2 separate regions of the Homo sapiens genome follow, and region 2 is linked to region 1. The links come from fine-mapping of genetic effects on gene expression. A gene starts in region 1. The other region holds a variant in brackets. All regions are shown on one strand. Distances are from middle to middle.

Region 1 (9,358 bases):
ACTTGGGACTCTTCTGGACCTCACCCTGTATACTTCTTCATCTGGCTCCTCATTAGTATCCTTTAAAATAAACAGACAAACGTAAGTAAAATGCCTTCCTGGATCCTGTGAGCCATTCTAGCAAACTATTAGAACTGAGGAGGGGATAGCAGGAACCCCCAATTTATAGCCAGTTTATCAGCAGTATAGCTGGGTGGCCAGAGACTTGTGACTGGTCTGAAGTAGGGGCAGTCTTGAAGAACTGAGTCCTTAACCTGTGGGGTCTACACTAACCCCTAATAGCTAGGGTCAGAATTGAACTGGATTGCTGGCCACCCAGTTGGTGTGAAGAATTTGGCTGATGTCAGAAAATATCCCAGAGGCTGTAATTAGTGAGCATGTTCAGTCCTCTAACTTGAAAGCAGGGAAATTATTATGTTTAACAACTCAGCTATCTTATAAGTGAACTTTCTCAGAAGCCTTTAGTGTTTTAACCCACAGAGAGACTAATGGTGGAAGACTGAAACACTGACAAGCCTTGGTTCAGGGCAGGGGAGAAAGTTCTTAACCCTCTAGAAATCTCATCACCTCAGCAGAACCCACCATGCTTCTCTCCGGGCTGACCATGCCTCTGTCTTCTCGCTCAGGAAGTGTGGATATATTCTGAATCATCTCTCTCCTTTATTTCCAAACCCTGCTTCATTCTCCCCACAGCATTTCTTTGGCCCAAGGGTTAGTCATCCTTCAAGGTGAATATTGATGTCATCCCCAGCTCCTAGCCCCTCCAACTTCTTGCCAAAGATGTTTCTATCTGTTCCTACAGTTAGGCTGTCTTCCTCCGTAGAACCCTGACTTCCAGGTGGTAAAGAGGGCACAAGATATGCTGGGCACTGAAGCAGGAACGACAGGAGTGCTGGGTGTGCAATCATTCATTTGCTACACATTTGCTGATTCCTGCCCTGATCCTAGCCCTGTAGGATGTAGAGATAATTTATGACGTAGTTGCTTAAGAGTGGAAGTATGAGAGGGCATCCTGTGTGCGTGAATTCGTCAGGGCAGCACTTGCGGGAATGAGCCAGGGGCAGAGGTTAATTCTACTGAGGTCAGACAGGCCATCCCCACTCCCACAGGACAGACTTATGAGTGAGTCAGCCAGGCCTTGGAATAGAGGTTACAGGCATGACCAGATATAGTCAAGAGCCGGCAGGGGTGGTCAGAGCCCCAGTGGGAATCCACTGTTACTATAGGAATTAAATGAGATAATGCATGTAGAAGCTTGGCTCAGAGTAAACACTCAATAAATGGTAGCTATTATTGTCTTTTTGTTATTGAGTTGCATTGTTAGCCTCACAGAGGTAACTGGCAGAGATTATATCTGGAAGAGGCCCAGCAGAGGATCTGGTAGAGAACGTTACATCTGGGCTGAGCCTTTGTGGAGGTGGTTCTATTCTTTTGTGGGAAATGGACTCTTTGGAGAACCTGACGAAAGCTGTGCCTCTCCCCAGAAAAAGGCACAGCTGCTCACATGATGCTTTGCATATTATTTCAGGGACTTCACAGACTCCTGGAAGCCTGTCTAGTCACGGAACCTGGTTGGACACAGCTGTTATTTGCCAAGCATGGCTGAGAAAATTTCCTGCTGTTCTGCCAGGCACTGTGGCTCACACCTATAATCCCAGCACTTTTGGAGGCCGAGGCAGGTGGATCGCTTGAGCCCAGGAGTTTGAGACCAGCCTGGGCAACATGGCAAAACTCTGTCTCTACACAAAACACAAAAATTAGCCAGGCATGGTGGTACACGCCTGTAGTCCCAGCTACTCGTGAGGCTGAGGTGGGAAGATCAAATGAGCCTCGGAGGTCAAGGCTGCACTGAATTGTGATCTCTCCATTGCACTCCAGCCTGGGCGACAGAGCGAGACCCTGTCTCAAAAAAAGAAAAAGAAAAGAAAAGTTCCCACTATTAGCTTATTGACCCAAGTGAAAACTTCAGCACACATAGGATATTCAACGGTGGGGATATTCTGTGTCTTTTAAAATACAAAGTGGTATCCTGCAGAATGGGTGGAAGAGGGAGACCTGTGAAGAGACCCATCTTTTTTTTTTTTTTTTGAGGCGGAGTTTTGCTCTTGTCACCCAGGCTGGAATGCAGTGGCACGATCTTGGCTCAGTGCAACCTCCGCCTCCCGTGTTCAAGTGATTTCTCCTGCCTCAGCCTCCTGAGTAGCTGGGACTACAGGCGCCTGCCACCACATCAAGCTAATTTTTTGTATTTTTAGTAGAGACAGGGTTTCATCATGTTGGCCAGCCTGGTCTCAAACTCCGATCTCAGGTGATACACCCGACTCAGCCTCCCAAAGTGCAGGGATTACAGGTGTGAGCCACCACGCCCGGCCAAAGAGACCCACCTTAAAGTCCAGGGAGAAGACACAATTGGCTTCATGGGCATGTGACCTCTGCAGTCACACAGGACCCTGCATGTTTTGTTTTCTGTTCTTTGTTTTTTTGAGACACCGTTTCACTCTGTCACCCAGGCTGGAGTGCAGTGGCACAATCTCAGCTCACTGCAACCTCCATCTCCTGGGTTCAAGCAATTCTCATGCCTCAACCTCCCAAGTAGCTGGGATTGCAGGCACATGCCACCACGCCCAGCTAATTTTTGTATTTTTTTAATTTTTATTTTTTGAGATGGAGTCTCACTCTGTCACTAGGCTGGAGTACAGTGGCGTGACCTTGGATCACTGCAATCTCCGTCTCCTGGGTTCAAGCGATTCCCCTGCCCCAACCTCCCTAGTAGCTGGGATTACAGGCATGCACCACCACGCCTGGATAATTTTTTGTATTTTAGTAGAGATGGGGTTTCACCATGTTGGACAGGATGGTCTCGATCTCCTGATTATCTGCCCGCCTTGGCCTCCCAAAGTGCTGGGATTACAGGTATAAGCCACCACGCCTGGCCTAATTATTGTATTTTTAGTAGAGATGGGGTTTTGCCATGTTGGCTAGGTTGATCTTGAACTCCTGACCTTAAGTGATCCGCCTGCCTTGGCCTCCCAGAGTCCTGGGATTATAGCGTAAGCCACAGCGCCCGGCCCCCTGCATGTTCTTGACTTCACGCTCTGCTGTGTTGCCATCTTGAAATTCTTAATTTTTTTTTTTTTTTTAGATGGAGTTTTGCTCTTGTTGCCCCAGGCTGGAGTGCAGTGGGGTGATCTCAGCTCACCACAACCTCTGCCTCCTGGGTTCAAGCAATTCTCCCACTTCAGCCTCCTGAGTAGCTGCGAATTACAGGCATGTGCCACCACACCTATCTAATTATTTTTTGTATTTTTAGTAGAGACAGGGTTTTTCCATGTTGGTCAGGCTGGTCTCGAACGCCTGACCTTGTCATCTGGCCAGGCCTCCCAAGTGCTGGGATTATAGGCATGAGCCACTGCGTCTGGCCGAAATTCTTAATTTTTTAACAAGAAGTGCTGCATCTTCATTTTGTGCTGGGCCCCCCAAACTATGTAGCCAGTCCTGGAAGAAAACAGTGACACATTTATTTGCATGCTTACTATGTGAGCAGCAAACAAGTGACAGTGCTGGAACCGGGACCCAGGCCGTTTGGGTCCAAAACCACGGGTCCTAACCTACATCTTACCATACTTCCTGTCTCTCGAATCAAGAGGGCTAGTGAGAGTGGAGAGGAAGGGAAAGAATAAGAACCTTCTGTTTCTTCCACCAGAACACTCTTCACTCCCCTGCCTCTCCTTCCTTCCTATTGTCGTCTCAGTATCAGTTTCGTTTCCTCAAAGAGGTGTTTCCTGGTCCCCAAACCTAAATTATGCCCCTCTCATTCTCTCTTTTCTCCCTTAGTATTTTATTTATTATTTATTTATTTTGACAGAGTTTCGCTTTTGTCGCCTAGGCTAAAGTGCAATAGCATGGTCTTGGCTCACTGCAACCTCCACCTCCCGGGTTCAAGCGATTCTCCTGCCTCAACCTCCTGAGTAGCTGGGATTACAGGTGCCTGATACCATCCCTGCCTAATTTTTGTATTTTTAGTAGAGATGGGGTTTCACCACGTTGGCCAGGCTGGTCTCGAACTCCTGAACTCAGGTGATCCACTCACTTTTGGGAGGCCGATCTCCACTCAGGTGGAGGTTGCAGTGAGCTGATTCAGCCTCCCAAAGTGCTGAAATTACAGGTGTGAGCCACCGTGCCACGTTTCTTCTTTAATATTCTTTAGAGTATTCATCAGAACTTTGCGTATTTATTTGTATATTTCCTTGTTTTAATGACAATCCCTCACTAGACTGTGTGCTCAATGAGGGCAGAGATTTTGTCGGGTTTTGTTCCCTTATCCCCAGCAGAGAACCTGGCACATAGTGGGTATTTCATAAATGTTAGTTGGAAAGTACAGTTTATAGAATGTAGTGACAGATCAGATGTAATTGTAGGGAAGCCTGGAGGATGACCTAGGAAATTCCACTTGGGTGATGCTAATTGCCAAGGTGAATATAGGAAGTTAGGAGTGGGACAGGAATGATTATGTGGATTTGAGATGTGTCCAGTTCGAGGGCTTTTGGGGGTGGCTTGGAGAAGGCAATCTTCTGCTGGGAAACTTCTGACTCTGTCCCTACTGCAGCCCAGGGTAGGGGCTCCCTACCTCCACCTGGGCAGATCTCTGCCATCACCCATCTCACTGGCGTGCTCTTGGGAGCCTATCTGTTCCCTGGGCGGTGCAGCTCTACGGGATTTGGAACAGTGTTGCAGGTCTCATCTCTGGCTCGCAGGGCCCCCAGGGGTGTGTATGCAGTCAGGGCTCAATAAATGCCAGTAGACGGAAAGAAGGAAGGCGAAAAATGTGGCCAGACACTCAGGGGAGAGGCTGGGGTGAGGAGCAGATCTGGGAACGTAAATAGAACTAGAAGTCCAAGTTGGAACCCTGGAGCCCTAGAGACAGGGTGGACAAAAAAGTGTTCCAAGCCAGGAGGCCAGGCACAGGGCTAAGCGCTTTATTCACATGACTGCATTTCATCTTCATATCTACACTAAAGAGGCATAATTATTCCTACTTTGTTCATGAGAAAACAGGTCCAGAGAGGTGACGTGATTTGCCCAAGGTCACACAGCGAGTGAGCAGCAAAGTCTGGATTTGACTCAGGGCTGTTGTCCCCTAAGCCCGCACGCACTCTTCCACTTCACTCCCTGCCTCTCCAACCCTCCACCTCCCTATCCCTCTCCCCTCCCCTCCGGCGGCTCCCCCGCCCCACCCCTCTGCCGTTCCCCCCAACTCCCTCCCTGTCGGTGGCGGCGGCGGAGCCACGTGGTGGGGCCGGGAAGCCGCGGCCGACGAGAGCCCGGGCGACTGCCCCAGCTGGGCAGTGCTGCTCTGCGCTGCGCCGCGCTCGGGGCTCGCTCTCCTTGCTCCGCGCTCCCCGCCAGCCGCCCCGGGGCAGGAGGCGCGCCTGACGGACGGCCCGCTAGACAAAGGAGGCGCGGCTCGGCGGGGCCAGCGCGCGGACGGACGGACCATGGACTCGGAGCGCGGGCGGCCGGCCCCAGCCTTGGGGACCGGACACTCCCGGGCCCGGCCCTAGGCGCCCGGCCCCGCCGCCCGGCGCGCCCAGCGGGGAGGACGTGGAGCCCGCGCGGCGCGAGCAGGCGGCGGCCGCGGAGCAAGAAGGGCGCCGCGGCGTGCGGCCCGCGCAGCCCCCGGAGCCATGGGCAAGTGCAGCGGGCGCTGCACGCTGGTCGCCTTCTGCTGCCTGCAGCTGGTAAGCGTCGCGTGCCCAGGCAGTCGGGGCAGGGTGGGGCGCGGCGGGGCGCGGTCCCAGGGCGTGCGGGTGGGGTTGCGTGTGTCTCTGTGTGTGTGTCTGGTGCGTGTGCCCGGGCGGGGGGTGGTCTGGAGTCTCGGAGCGGTCGGGCGGAGCCTGCTCCCGCTGGCCGGGCTGTCTCTTTGTGTGCGCTTCTCGCTGCTGTGCCCGGCGCTCCTCCGGTCCCCAAGTGCGTCCTGTGCGCGAGTCCCCGGCCCGCCCGCACTGTACAAGTGGCCTCCTGTTGGGGGATGCGCTGTGGGACGGTGGCTTGCTGGGACTGGGGGTGTGTCTGAGGCTGATCTGTGGATCCGTTGAGGTCCTGCTGTGTGTTTCCCTCTAGATCCCTCGTTTGCATGGGTCTCTCCCTTCCTCTGGGTCTCTGCCTCTGATCACCACCCCTGTGTGAGCGTTTCTCACAAAGTCTCTGCTCCGGCGTGTGTCTCTCAGGGTTTCTCTTTGGTGTGTCTCTAAATCGCTGACCATTTCTGGCCCATGTTCATCTGTGTTCTGGGATCTTAGACTCCAAGAACCCTCCAATCCTTTGTGTTGTTTCTGCCTCCCTTCACCTTCCTGACCGGGCAGTCCTGGGAAAGGAGAGCCACCTCCCTGGAGAGGGTCACCAGGAGCTGCCAGATCCTGGGCCAGCCTGACCCAGCCTGGACCACACTTCCTGCTTTGGTCTGGCCGCTGTGGCCATGGGGGTTCCATCAGTCATCAGTTCCACCCACCAGAGCAGCTCCTCTGCCGGGGCCAGCAACAGTGGGGATGGGGACACTTGGGTGCCCTAGGGAGGACCAGAGCATCTGAGGACACTGTGCCTAGCCCCAGCATAGGGAACTCAGGTTCTTGTCTCAGGGAGGAGTGACTGTAGTGGACTAGAAGAAACAGCACTGCCCTTCAAATCAGGCCCTGGCAGGGGAATTTGGGAGGGTGGTTAAGGAGAGGCAGGGGTCTCCTACCTACCCTAGAGCTGAGATTGAACAACTAGGGAGGTTGAAGCTGTGCTTCTCCTCTAGGCAGAGGTGCATGGGGACCTCCATCGCCGAACCCAGGTCTGAGAGTGGGCAGCGAGGAGCCTGAGCCCCCCTCATGCTGGACTCCTTGTTCTGGGTTTCCACTCTTGCCTGCATCCATCACGCCCTCCCCACCACAGGAGCCAATGATAATGTAGAGTGAAGTTTTGAGCCTGGACATGCAGACCTCCTCATTCGTCTTGCTTCTCTCCTCCTGGGGACACCAGCTTCAAACATGCCATCCACAGACCTGGCCTGGGCAGTGGTGGAAACAGCCCTAGCTCTGGAGATTGTAGCCCTGCTCCCAGCTGTGGGAGACTGGACAAGTGACTTCCCCCCACTGGCCGGCCTCAGTCTTCTTATCTGTAAAATGATTATCCCTGAGGATTGCAGAGGGAATTAATTAAGATCAGGTGGAATGGGAACTCCAGAAGGGCAGAGATTGTCTGTTTTTCTTTATCTACTTTGAGGAACATGAAATGCCAAGAAATGTTTAAACCTTTCAGAGGATTCTTCTGTGTTTGTTAATTTTTTAATTTTAAACTAGGGGTTTTTTTTAATTAGAAAAGTAATATACATATATTGTAAAAAATAAATACATACATAATCAAACAGGACAGATAAATAAAAAGTAAGTTTTCTAGGCCAGGCATCGTGGCTTATGCCTGTAACCCCAGCACTTTGGGAGGGCGAGATGGGCAGATCACCTGAGGTCAGGGGTTCGAGACCAGCCTGGCCAACATGAAGAAACCCCATCACTGCTGAAAATACAAAAATTAGGGGTGGTGGCACGCATCTGTAATCCCAGCTACTCGAGAGGCTGAGACATGAGAATCACTTGAACCCAGGAGGCGGAGGTTACAGTGAGATGAGATCACGCCGCTGCACTCCAGCCTGGACGACAGAGTGAAACTGTGTCTCAAAAAAAAAAAAAAAGTTTTCTTCTCTCTATAACTAGACCCCTCCCCAAAGGTGAACCTGTTAGCAGTTTGTCCCATGCTCATTCTCTGTTGGCGATAATAACGGTTAGCTTTGGAGAGCCCTTGACTAAGTGTCAGGTACTCTTGGAAGCACTTTTCCAGGTATTAACTCATTTAATCCTAACAGCCCTATGAAGTAACTTGTCCAGAATTCTACAGGAACTAGGACCCAGGCTTTGTTTTGGGGGTTTTGTTTTTGTTTTTGTTTGAGACATGGGCTCACTCTGTCATCCAGGACAGAGTGCAGTGGTGCAATCATAGCTCACTACAGCCTTGACCTCCCAGGCTCAAACAATCCTCCCACCTCAGCCTCCTGAGTACCTGGGACTACGGGGGCACACCACCATGCCTAGCTAATTTTTTTGTGTTTTAGAGGTGGGTCTCACTCTTGTTGCCCAGGCTGGTCTCAAACTCCTGTGGTCAAGCCATCCTCCCACTTCAGCCTCCCAAGTGCTGGGATTATAGGCATGAGCCACCACATCCAGCCAGGATCCAGGCTTTGAATCCAGGCAGTTGGCCAGGTCCTCTGTTGCCTTCTTAATTATAAAATAAGTAGTTCTGGCCCTGGTAAGTCTGGGGCCCCATGGAAGGAGCTCATGGCTCTAGAGAGAAATGAAGGTGGTAGAGTGTCTCTCTGCCTCCCACTTCCCTTCCTCCATAGTTCTCCCTTGCTAAGCTAACCCCACTCTTCCACTTAGAGGAGCTCACCAGCACTAGAGGCTTGAGTTAGATGAGACCTGGGTGGCATTCTGGTTTCTCCCACATCCCGGCTGGGTGGCTTTGGGCAGCTTGTGAAGGTTGCACAAGATCATTTGCGGGAGGAACTTGAAAATTGCTCTCTTGGCTCTGTTGCACTATCTGGGCTCATTGCAGAGTGGGCCCTCCAGTTGTCACTAACCTCCATGAGCCCCTACTGCCTGATAGCTTCCATAATGTGCCCCGGGATGTTGGAATTCACCAGCCTGAGGGGAGAAGGGAGTCTTGGTTTTCTCATCCAAGGGACTGAAGGGAAAAAAGAGGCTGTTAAATATCTTTCAGCTGAAAACTTAGGAGGAACTGTGTCATTTTTCTTTCTCAAATGGAGTTTAATCGTTACAATGAATCAGGCCAATTCGAAACATTCTTCCTCAGTTGGGATAGATGTGATTTGGGTGAGGGAGTGAGGTGTGAGGGTGCCATGGGGTTTAAGGGAAGCAGGTAGGGACTGTGCCTTTCAGATGGATAAGTGTAGGATAGTAGTTAAGGCTCTGAAGTTTGACAGGACAGACCTGGCTTTTAGACCTGGTTCTGTCACTTCCTGGCTATGCAATTTTGGGCAAGTTGCTTACCGTCTCTGAGCCACATAGTTTTGTCATCTGTTAAATAGAGAGAATATAAAACAGTTCCTAATCCTTAGGGTTGTTGTGAGGACTCAGTCCATATAATGAATTTAGCACTCTGGCAGGTACAGAGTGAGTACTCATTAAACTGTAGCTTATTGTTATTATCTTAATGATTCATATCATGGGATGTGTCTGTGGCACTGTAGCCCAAACATATCCAGGTGACCCCCTGCACTGTCCTTTGTGGACTGTCCTTTGTGGGA
Region 2 (9,358 bases), 980 kb after region 1:
GCCACTGACAGAGGACAGAGCCTGGAATCATCTGGCCAAGGAGAGACTCCTTGCCTGGGGGTCAATGTGGGGCTGGACAGGCCATTGTGCTGAGGGACAGAAGCCAGGGGTTGAGGGGAAGAAGTGAGCTCTAGGTGAGAACAGTCAGGGGCAGGATGAAGGGGGGTATCTGCCCACCTGGCCCTTAGCAGAGTAGCTTGTCCTCCCAGGCCACTCAGCCTGGAACATGGGCAAGACACATCATGGCCCTGAATAAATTCTTCCTTTCCATGCTTTAGCAAGTATAATAAGTATACTTATTAAGTATACCTCAAGTGCTTTGAGAAGTATCATTGAATACGTTTTTCTTCAACACTCCAGTCCTCCCTTTTCTTCTCTCCCTTCCTCTCTCTCTGCTTTCTTTTTTTCTCTCTTCCTTCCATGGGGCAGGAAGGTAGCAAGACAGAACCCCAGGCACATGTGTCCACAGGCACACGTATAAGGCTCCACACCTGTGTGCTCACCAGCCGCATGATGGGCCGTGTCCGCCCAGCACCAGCCCCACAGAGCTCAGAGCAGCCCAGGCCTCTTCTCTGTTTTGTTGCTCCCAGAAAATTGGAAAATAAATAAATGTTAAAATAGAATCACAAATACTGGGATATTACCTAAATATTTACATTGTACAAATGAACACTTTTGTCAACAAATATGTGATGTGTGATTTATCAGGTAATCACAAGGTTTATTTTTAAAAAGCTAATTCTTTCCACAGGTGAGGCAGAGTGGATGGGAACCAGGACACACAGAGGAGGCTGTTAGATGAAAGTCTTGCCTTCTTTCCCTGTGCCCCTGAGTCCATGGGAAGAACCTCTTAGTAACAGCACCACAAGGTCACATTTGAGGGCTTGAATGTGGGCCCTGCACACATATGTGCACACATAAACACAGACACATAGGTACACACCTGCATACACACAACCCCCTTGGCAGATAGGCAAGAGGTTACCTGACTTGAATGTCGCTGTGGCAATAACTGCAATGTGATTCTTTTTAGAGATGAAGCTGTCACATGCATTTTATCCTTTCTGAAAATAGGCAAGGTCTGACGGTATCTGGGGGGAAGCTGACACTGGGGAACATCCCAGAGGCATTTCTGCAAATCCTGAATCATGGTGGGTCCCAGGTCCTTCCCCAGGGGCCTATGCAGTGGGTCAGGTGTCAGGGAAATGGCTGCTTCTAGAGGTGCTACTGTGTCCCAGGCACATGGGCTATCCTGTTCACCCCTCACAATGCCCCCAGAGTGGGTCGAATTCTCCCTGTTACTGCAGAGGCATGAAGCCTCGGAGAGGCAGGGGAACTTGCCCTGGGTTACCCAGCAGGGAGTGGAATGGCTGGTCTCTGCTGGCTCTCCCTGATGCTGGTGACAGAGCTTATTACAACTGAGCTTGGGTTGTGAGGCCCCCCATTCTGCTGGCCGCATTACGGGATGTGAGCACAGGATGCAGTCTGCTAAGGGCCGCAGACAGACAGTGGAGAAATGGCTGGGGGAGTGCAGGTATAGGAGATGATGGGCACTGGGGAGGGGGAACAAGGAGGGGATAATGATAAAACTGGGCCTTCGTGGGCTTGAGACAAAGCACAGTCAGTGCCTGATCAATGGCAGGCATTATCAGTGTGGTTATGACTGCCATCATCATCATTTCTGGGGGAAGAATCTTCATCATCATTGATATGGTTTGGATCTGTGTCCCTGCCCAAATCTCATGTTGAAATGTAATCTCCAAGGCTGGAGGTGGGGCCTGGTGGGAGGTGATTGTATCATGGGGGTGGATTTCTCACAAATGGTGAGAGCACCTCTTGGTGCTGTCCTCCCAAAGTGAGTGAGTTCTCACAAGATCTGGTCCCTTAAAAGTGTGATCTGGTCCTTCTCTCTCTCTTGCTCCTGTTCTGGCCATGTGATGTGCCTGCTCCCCCTTCACTATCTGCCATGACTGTAAGTTCCCTGAGGCCTCCCCAGAAGCTGAGCAGATGCCAGCACTATGCTTCCTGTAGAGCCTGCAGAAGCATGAGCCAATTCAATCTCTTTTCCTTCTAAATTACCCAGTCTCAGGTATTGATTTATAGCAATTCAAGAACAGCCTAACACAATTATCATCATTGCTGTCTTCAGCATCATTGTCATCCTCATCTTCATAGTCACCATTGTCTTGGTTTTCATTATTATACTCATGGTGTCATCATCGTCATCATCCTGACTGTTGTCAGTCATCATCTTTGCCATCCTCATAGTCATTACCATCTTAATTACCCCTTAGTGAGTATCACCTGTGTCTTGCCTGTAAGGCTGTTATAATTATCATCCTTGGATTACGGATGGGGAAGCTGAAGCACAGGGAGAGAACAGGACCTGCCCAATGGCCCAGAGCAAGTCAGCGATGGTGTCACCAGCTCAAGTTCAGCTGCTCCCTATTCAGAGGTTGAAAACATGAGAAACAAGGCGCAGCGAAAGGAAAACAGTTTTATTAATTGGAAGCTAGCAATTGGGGAATGGCCAGACTCATGCTTTTAAAAGACCAGTCCAACTTTCTGGGCTGAGTGAGATGGTTTCAGAAGGGAGACATGGTACAGGAAACAGGTGGGAGGGGTGCAGGAAGGTGCAGGTCTGCAGGTCTTGCTCCAAAGGCTTTCTTGAGTAGTCAAGCACCTGGAGGTCCAGTTGGCATCATCTTGACTTCTGCCTATTGGTGGTGGTCTCCTTGTTTGTAAGCCCACTAAGCAAGCTGATTTCATAGCTGGATCTGCAAGCCTGGTTTGTTTCAAAATTAGCCCCTGGAATTTCTAAGCCAGCACATAATGAGATAAGGAGCACTGTTCATGGGAGTACCTGGTGGGTAGGGAAGAAACAAATGTTCTAAAGCACAAGGCTACATTCTGAGATGAAGAAGGACAGGAAAAAATAAGTTCAAAATGCATTTCAAGGCTGAGACACTCAGTTACAATGGATCCAGGATTTGAACCTGTGGTGTCTGTCTCAGGGGTGGCGTTTTCACCCTGTACAATGACAGTACGAGCATGACTGTTCATTGGATGCCTCTGTTTGCCATGAACACCTCCTCCCGGATTGTCTCCAAAGCCCCTGCTGTCCTCCCAGCCCATCTGGCATCCTGGGGACCACTGCCACAGCTGAAGGCCTACTGTGTGTGCTGCATCTGTGTCCTCATACCCTTGTGCTTTTCTGCCTGTGGCTCTCACCTGTGGGTTCCTAGAACCTACAGCCCCTCCAGGAGGTACATCTCATCAGGTCTGTTGTTTTTACAGGGGAGGACTCTGAGGGTCAGAGTGGGAGGGTGACTAAGGCCAACCCCAGATTCTTTATTTTTTATTTTTTGAGACAAAGTTTCTCTGTCACTCAGGTTGGAGTGCAATGGTACAATCTTGGCTCACTGCAACCTCTGCCCTCTGGATTCAAGTGATTCTCCTGCCTCAGCCTCCCCAGTAGCTGGGACTACAGGTGCTCACCACCACCCCCATCTAATTTTTGAATTTTTAGTAGAGATGGGGTTTCACCATTTTGGCTAGGCTGGTCTCGAACCCCTGACCTCAAGTGATCCACCTGCCTTGGTTTCCCAAAGTTCTGGGATTACAGG[C/T]GTGAGCCACTGCACCCGGCTCAACCCTAGAATCTTTCTGGTGCTTGAGGGTGGTTGCAGGGATACAATGTGATGACACAGGAAATCTGGATCTGGCGAAATTGCAACTTCTACGGGAAAGGGCACCATCCCCCGTGATAGAGGAGAAACCAAGGCCGGGAGGGAAGGAGCAGGTAGAGGCTGGACTGTCAGGACTCTCCATTGCCGGCTTCCCCAGGGCGACCTGGAGGGCAGGAGGGCAGACCCAGGAGGTCTCAAGCAGGAACTCTTCCACCTACACCTCTGCCCCTGACTACCTGCCAACTCCCCGACCACAAGCAATTTTCCTGGGGGAAGAAAATGACTTCGCAGTTTTGGCAAGATCTCACTTCCATTAAGTTAAGCATGTAACAGAGTTCTTAGGGTGGAATATGTTTTGTTTAATACCTTGATCTCTCTTGTCTGCTGGAGAAATAAAATCTGTCAAGCCCCTTGAAGCCAACTGTCAAAGTAGAGCATTTTGGGAGGACAGATCTCTCACTCTGATGGCAAAATTCATTTGAAATGATCCTTTAATCCAGTCTCCCTGTGAGACCTGGAGCTGAAATTTTAAAGCCATTTGCCCTAAAGAGTTTCTTTCCATTTCTCCCTGCTGCTTTCTCTCCTGGTACCGACCCCTCCTCCACCTTTAAAAAATAATGCAACAGATTGCAGCCGGCATAATGATAACCATTTGGTTTCTCATACAATTTTTTAGGGGGAAAATGACAGAGCACAAAGCTTTGCCTTTCACTGTCTGTTTAGGGAAGGAAGGGAGGTGATTTGCTGTCAAAGTCAACAAGTAAAGGAGAAGAGGCATGAGGGAGTGGGTGGGATTTTCCAGACCTGAAGTCTGTGTGAGCAGGAGGAGCATCTGGGAGGATAACTGCGCCCTCACCCCTGCTGAAGTGGGGGTGGGAGGAGCTGCCGCTTTTTCTCTGATCTCTGCTCCTTACGCCTGTACCTCCTTCTATCCCGTGTCTGTGTCCCCCTGCCAGAGTCTCAGCCTGCCTTTGGGCTCAGTACTTTACAGGGTACAAAGCATTTCCACATTCACCATGATCATTTATTTGTTAATTGCTCTTTCCTTCCTTCCTTCCTTCCTTCCTTCCTTCCTTCCTTCCTTCCTTCCTTCCTTCCTTCCTTCATATTGTCAAAGTCATGGTGATTGGGTTTCACTATGGGACACTGTCCCATCCCCATGTGATGACTGGGATGTGACCCAGACATAATCTCCACCTTTAGGATTCCAGAGTCTAAAAGGGAAGATGAAGTATGGACAAATGGCTATGATCCTATGAGGCAGATGTGTGCTTGGCACATAGCAGGCACTTCCCTCAGTTAGGACGCGTTGGGCAACATGTAACAGACAACCTAACAACAGTGCTCAAGCGATGAGAAAGTAGAATGCTCTGGCATCGCCACACGTCTGGAGAGAAGTGGTTGCAGCTTAGTCAGATGCGCAGGGATGTTGACAAAGACCCAAGCACTTTCCCTCTTCCATCTTTACCATCCTTGGCTATGTGGGCTTTTTGTCCTTAGCTTGTTGCCTCATGGTTGCAAGATGACTGCTGCAGCTCCAAACATCATGTCTCACGCTACAGCCTTCAAGTCAAGAAGAAGTTTGCAGGGTGAGGCAGAAAAAAATATTTTCCAGAAGCACTCCCTCCACCAACAGATTTCCCCTCATATCTTGGTGGCCAAGTCTGGGCCACACGCTCACCCATAAAATGATCTCTGGAGAAGGGGGATGGGGTGCCTGGCTTGGCTTTACCCCAGGGCTGGAGGGGCCCCCAGGCCTGAGCCTGTGACTGCAGAACAAACACAGGGTTCTGTGAGTGAAGGAGGAGGGGCAGGTCTACTGGGGGGCAGCCCCATGTGTCCACCACCTTCTTGTTGGTGTTTGCTGACAGTTTCCCCCGGCAGTGTGGCGTCTGGGGTAGGGAAAGAAAATCCAGCTCTGAGCCTCCGCCCCTGTGGGCTGTGTGATCTGGGAAGCACTCAACCTCCTCCCCTGTGGAGTGGGGACCATGACAGCACCTGCTGCATAGGGAGGTCATGCAGGTGACGTGGGTCGTGTGTGCAGGTGCCCGGGCTCGTGGGGGTGTTAACACCTGTCAGCTATTGCGGGGATGAGGCCCATCTGTAAAGTGGCCCGTGGTGCCCTCTCTGTCACAGTCCTGGGGGTGACAATAGCAGGAATATCAGTTCATAGGTGCGAGCACTTCCTACGCGTGCTGGGCACCCTGTACTTGCACTCGCTCACCTAATCCTCACAGCTACCTGAGGAAAGAGCCCTTTTCATCCTCATTTTACATCAGAGGAAACTGAGGCTCAGGAAGGGGAACCCAGGTGGAGTGAGGGCAGGTGGGGCTCCAGGGTGCTCAGATTCCAGCTGCTGTGCTCTGACCCACTGCAGGGCCCTGGGTGGAGCTGGCACAGGCAGGTGCCCAGATGACCCCTTCCCACCCTGGGTCCAGGCCAGTGGCTGGGCCAGTCACTGTCCCAACCCTGTTGTCTGTTGCTCCTGGAGCTCCAGGGCCGCAGACCTGCCTGTGATGTGGGGATATTGGTCACCATCCTGGCTGCCCTCCTCCAAGTTGATGAATAAACATATTCTGTGTAATCAATAGTGTCACTGTGTCTTGGTCATGAATTGGCAACTTTCATTCTTTGGGGAAATACACATTAGATACATTTAACATGGAACATAAGCATATGCTAGTGATGGACAACACATTTCACATTTGTATATTTATCAAAATATGCAAAACCCATGTCCACAATTATACACTGGTAGGCACACCAGAGTTTAATAACTGCTTGAGACTCCTCACCAGCACCGTAATGTGAGCTTGGGCACCAAGGGGGACACACGACCCACAACCCAGACCTGCTGCGGGGGAGGGGCTCAGCTGTCACTGCTGTGGGTCCCATGAAGACCTGACCCATCGCTGGCCTGCCCAGTCTTCCTGGGAATTAAAACAATCATGCTAGATGACAGATTCCTACCGGATTTAGGACAAACACTTGCTAGAGAGACTGCCACCAGTCACCCTGGTGACTTGGTTCCGGTTAATGGTCTCCAAGCCCTGGGCACAGGGGAGGAAGGCAGTATAGCCTCCTGGTTAAACCACAGGCTTTGGCCTACACAGGTTTCCAGCCCTGGCTCTTCCACTTACCTGCTGTTAGAGGTCGGGAAGCTCACTTAAGCCCTCTGAGCTCAGTCCCCTCATATGTTAGCTGAGGATAGTAGTAGCATCTACCTTATTGCGTAGGGGCTAGAAGTAAATGTGGCAACACAAGTAGCAAGCTCAGTGAGGATTCTTAGTCTTGCGGTTCAGTTGTGTCAGGACCGTGGTTCTCTGGCCCCATGGCTGTCCAGGTGGGCAGCTCCTCCAGCAACTGGAGGGCCCTGGCCCCTCTGGGTCCCTCACCATTGGAATAGTTAGAAGAAAATGAGCCCCAGGCCCCACTAACTTGGGTTCACATTCAGCCTCCAGCCCTCACTCAACATGTGACTTGGGAAGTGGCTGAACCTCTGTGAGCCCCATCGGTTTTTCCCTCTATAAATGGACACACACTATTGACCACCTAGAGCTATTGCGAGGATGTGACGAGGGTACATCAGCTGGAGGCAGATTCCTGGGCTCAAGTGACATTTTAGTGCATACTTGTGGGTGGGACTCTGAGCAAAACACAGTGTCTCTGTTCCTTGGATCCTCATCCTTCACATAGAGATTGGGAGTCTCTACTGCGTAGGATGCTGCGGGGACTCCAGGAAAGAGAGCTCTCAATGTATGCTAACTGGCATTGCTATACTTATTATTATTATTATTCTACTTGTAGGCAAACACCCTATCTTGTCTTTATGTATCAAGCCCCTGGCACAGGGTCCGGGCATAGTAAAGACTTGAGGCTCACCGGAGCAGGAAGAGCAGGGACCCGGAAGCAGTTTGCCTGGGTTTAAAGTCTGGCTCCGTCACTTCTGAGCTGTGAGATCTTGGAAAATTCCTAATCATCTCTGAACTTTGGTATCTTCATCTTTAAAATAGAGGAGAGGGGTGAATGACAACAGGGTCTCCTTCATGGAGTTGTTGAAATAATTAAGTAAACTAATGCATGAAAAGTGCTTAGCACTGTGCCTGCCACACAGTAAGTGCCAAGACAGTGCTAGCTTCAATTCTTCCAGGATTTGAAGGAGCGTTGGTGTTGAGCAGCCTCTAAAGTTCTCCCTTTTTGCCACTACTGCACTTTGAGATGAAGAAATTGAGGCCAAGAGACATTAAATTAAACGTTTGGCAACAAGGCAGTATATAACTGTGCTAAATTATGCAGGGCAGACAGAGAACAAAATGATCAGTAATAAAAGGATAATTGCGGGGGACAGGTGCTAATGGACCAGGAGCCTGAGAAGAAGGAGAGAAAAATGCAGCCTGGGATGAGGATGGCCTCGGCCAGGGCCCAGGTGTTAATGACATTGATCTTTCCCCTTAACATAACCATGCATCCTCACTGTGAAGCATTTGGCAAGTGCAGGCGTTTATACAAGAGAGTATATAATTCATCTGGTATCTTGCCTTCCGGAGATAGTAGTTTTTACATATTAATACCTTTCTTCATTTCTTTTTCTATTCATATACAAGTACATATTTTCATAACTGCTTTCAAATGGGTGTGACTGTCTAGATAGGTTAGAACATGATGCAATAACAAACAAATCTCTTGGAAACAACAAAGTTTAAAATAGCCTGCTATAAGGAGATGATGAGTGGAATATTACAAAGTTTTAAAAACTAATGATGCCTAATATTTATGGAGCGAATAACCCTTATGTCCCATTAGCTTGATCTTAATGTAAATCCAGGTCCAATCTTCTCTCCCTCTCCAGGCTCCCACCCAGATCCCAAGGTCATCATGCTTGGACTGGTGCAGTAGCCTCCTGATGGGTCCCTGGCTCTACTCACTCCCCGCACAGCAGCCCCTGTGACCCTGTGAGACTCAAGGTGGAGCCCTCTCTGCTCTGCTCTGGACACCCCAGGCTCCTGCCTCACTGGGTACATCCAAGCTGACAGTGGCCCCGGCCCAACAGTCCCCAGCTTCACCCCCACTTGGCCCATCTCACCCCCTCCTTCTGCTCCCCTATAGCCCCCTCTGCTCCTTCCTGGACCCGTGGTCCTCACAGTTCCTGCCTCCAGCCTCCGTCCCTGTGCTTTCCTCAGCTGGAACCTCTCCCATGTCTACCCACTCCCTCACTTTCCTCCTCAGGTTCTTGTCCCAGTGTCACCTGCTCTGAGAGCCCTCCCTAACCTTCTCCCCACACCATTGACAGTGCTAGGAATCTTGCTACTTTGGTGGGGAGCTGGCATCTCCGTAACCAACTATTTACAAGTGTGACCCATCACCTGCCCCTCTCCTGCTTCCTTTCCCTCCGAAGCTCTTATGCACCCTGCAGCCCCCGTCTGATGCTCCGTGTCTGTCTCCTTCTAGACCTGAGCTCCCCACACAGGGGCTTTGTTTGGTTCTGAGCTTTCTCCCACTGCCTAGGACAGCGAATGCCCACAGTAAATGCCCAATGCCTATTTGCTGAGAAAGCAAGTGACTTCAGCCCTGACGATGTCCTACGGGTAAGATGCTGTCCTAAACAAGGGACTGTCTCATTATTTCTCAAGGCAGCCCAAGGAAGCTGGTTCTAGGGACACCCTTGTGTTTCA

The links. PIP is the estimated chance that this variant, and not a neighbour inherited with it, causes the effect.
Region 2: its variant is fine-mapped to the expression of NKAIN1 in nucleus accumbens (GTEx, PIP 0.97).

Annotation. Positions count from the first base shown.
Region 1 is chr1:31,235,874-31,245,231 of GRCh38, reverse strand. It overlaps NKAIN1 (sodium/potassium transporting ATPase interacting 1), which reads left to right and starts at 5,345. Exons shown (of 7, transcript NM_024522.3): 1 at 5,345-5,738. The coding sequence starts at 5,685.
Region 2 is chr1:30,254,309-30,263,666 of GRCh38, reverse strand. It overlaps LOC105378618 (a long non-coding RNA gene), which reads right to left. Exons shown (of 3, transcript XR_947130.3): 2 at 7,569-7,688; 3 at 2,479-2,863. Among named protein-coding and RNA genes, the nearest start is that of LINC01648, 220 kb to the right of the region's middle. RefSeq lists an enhancer at 5,100-5,867. The variant C/T (reference allele first, on the strand shown) is at 3,627.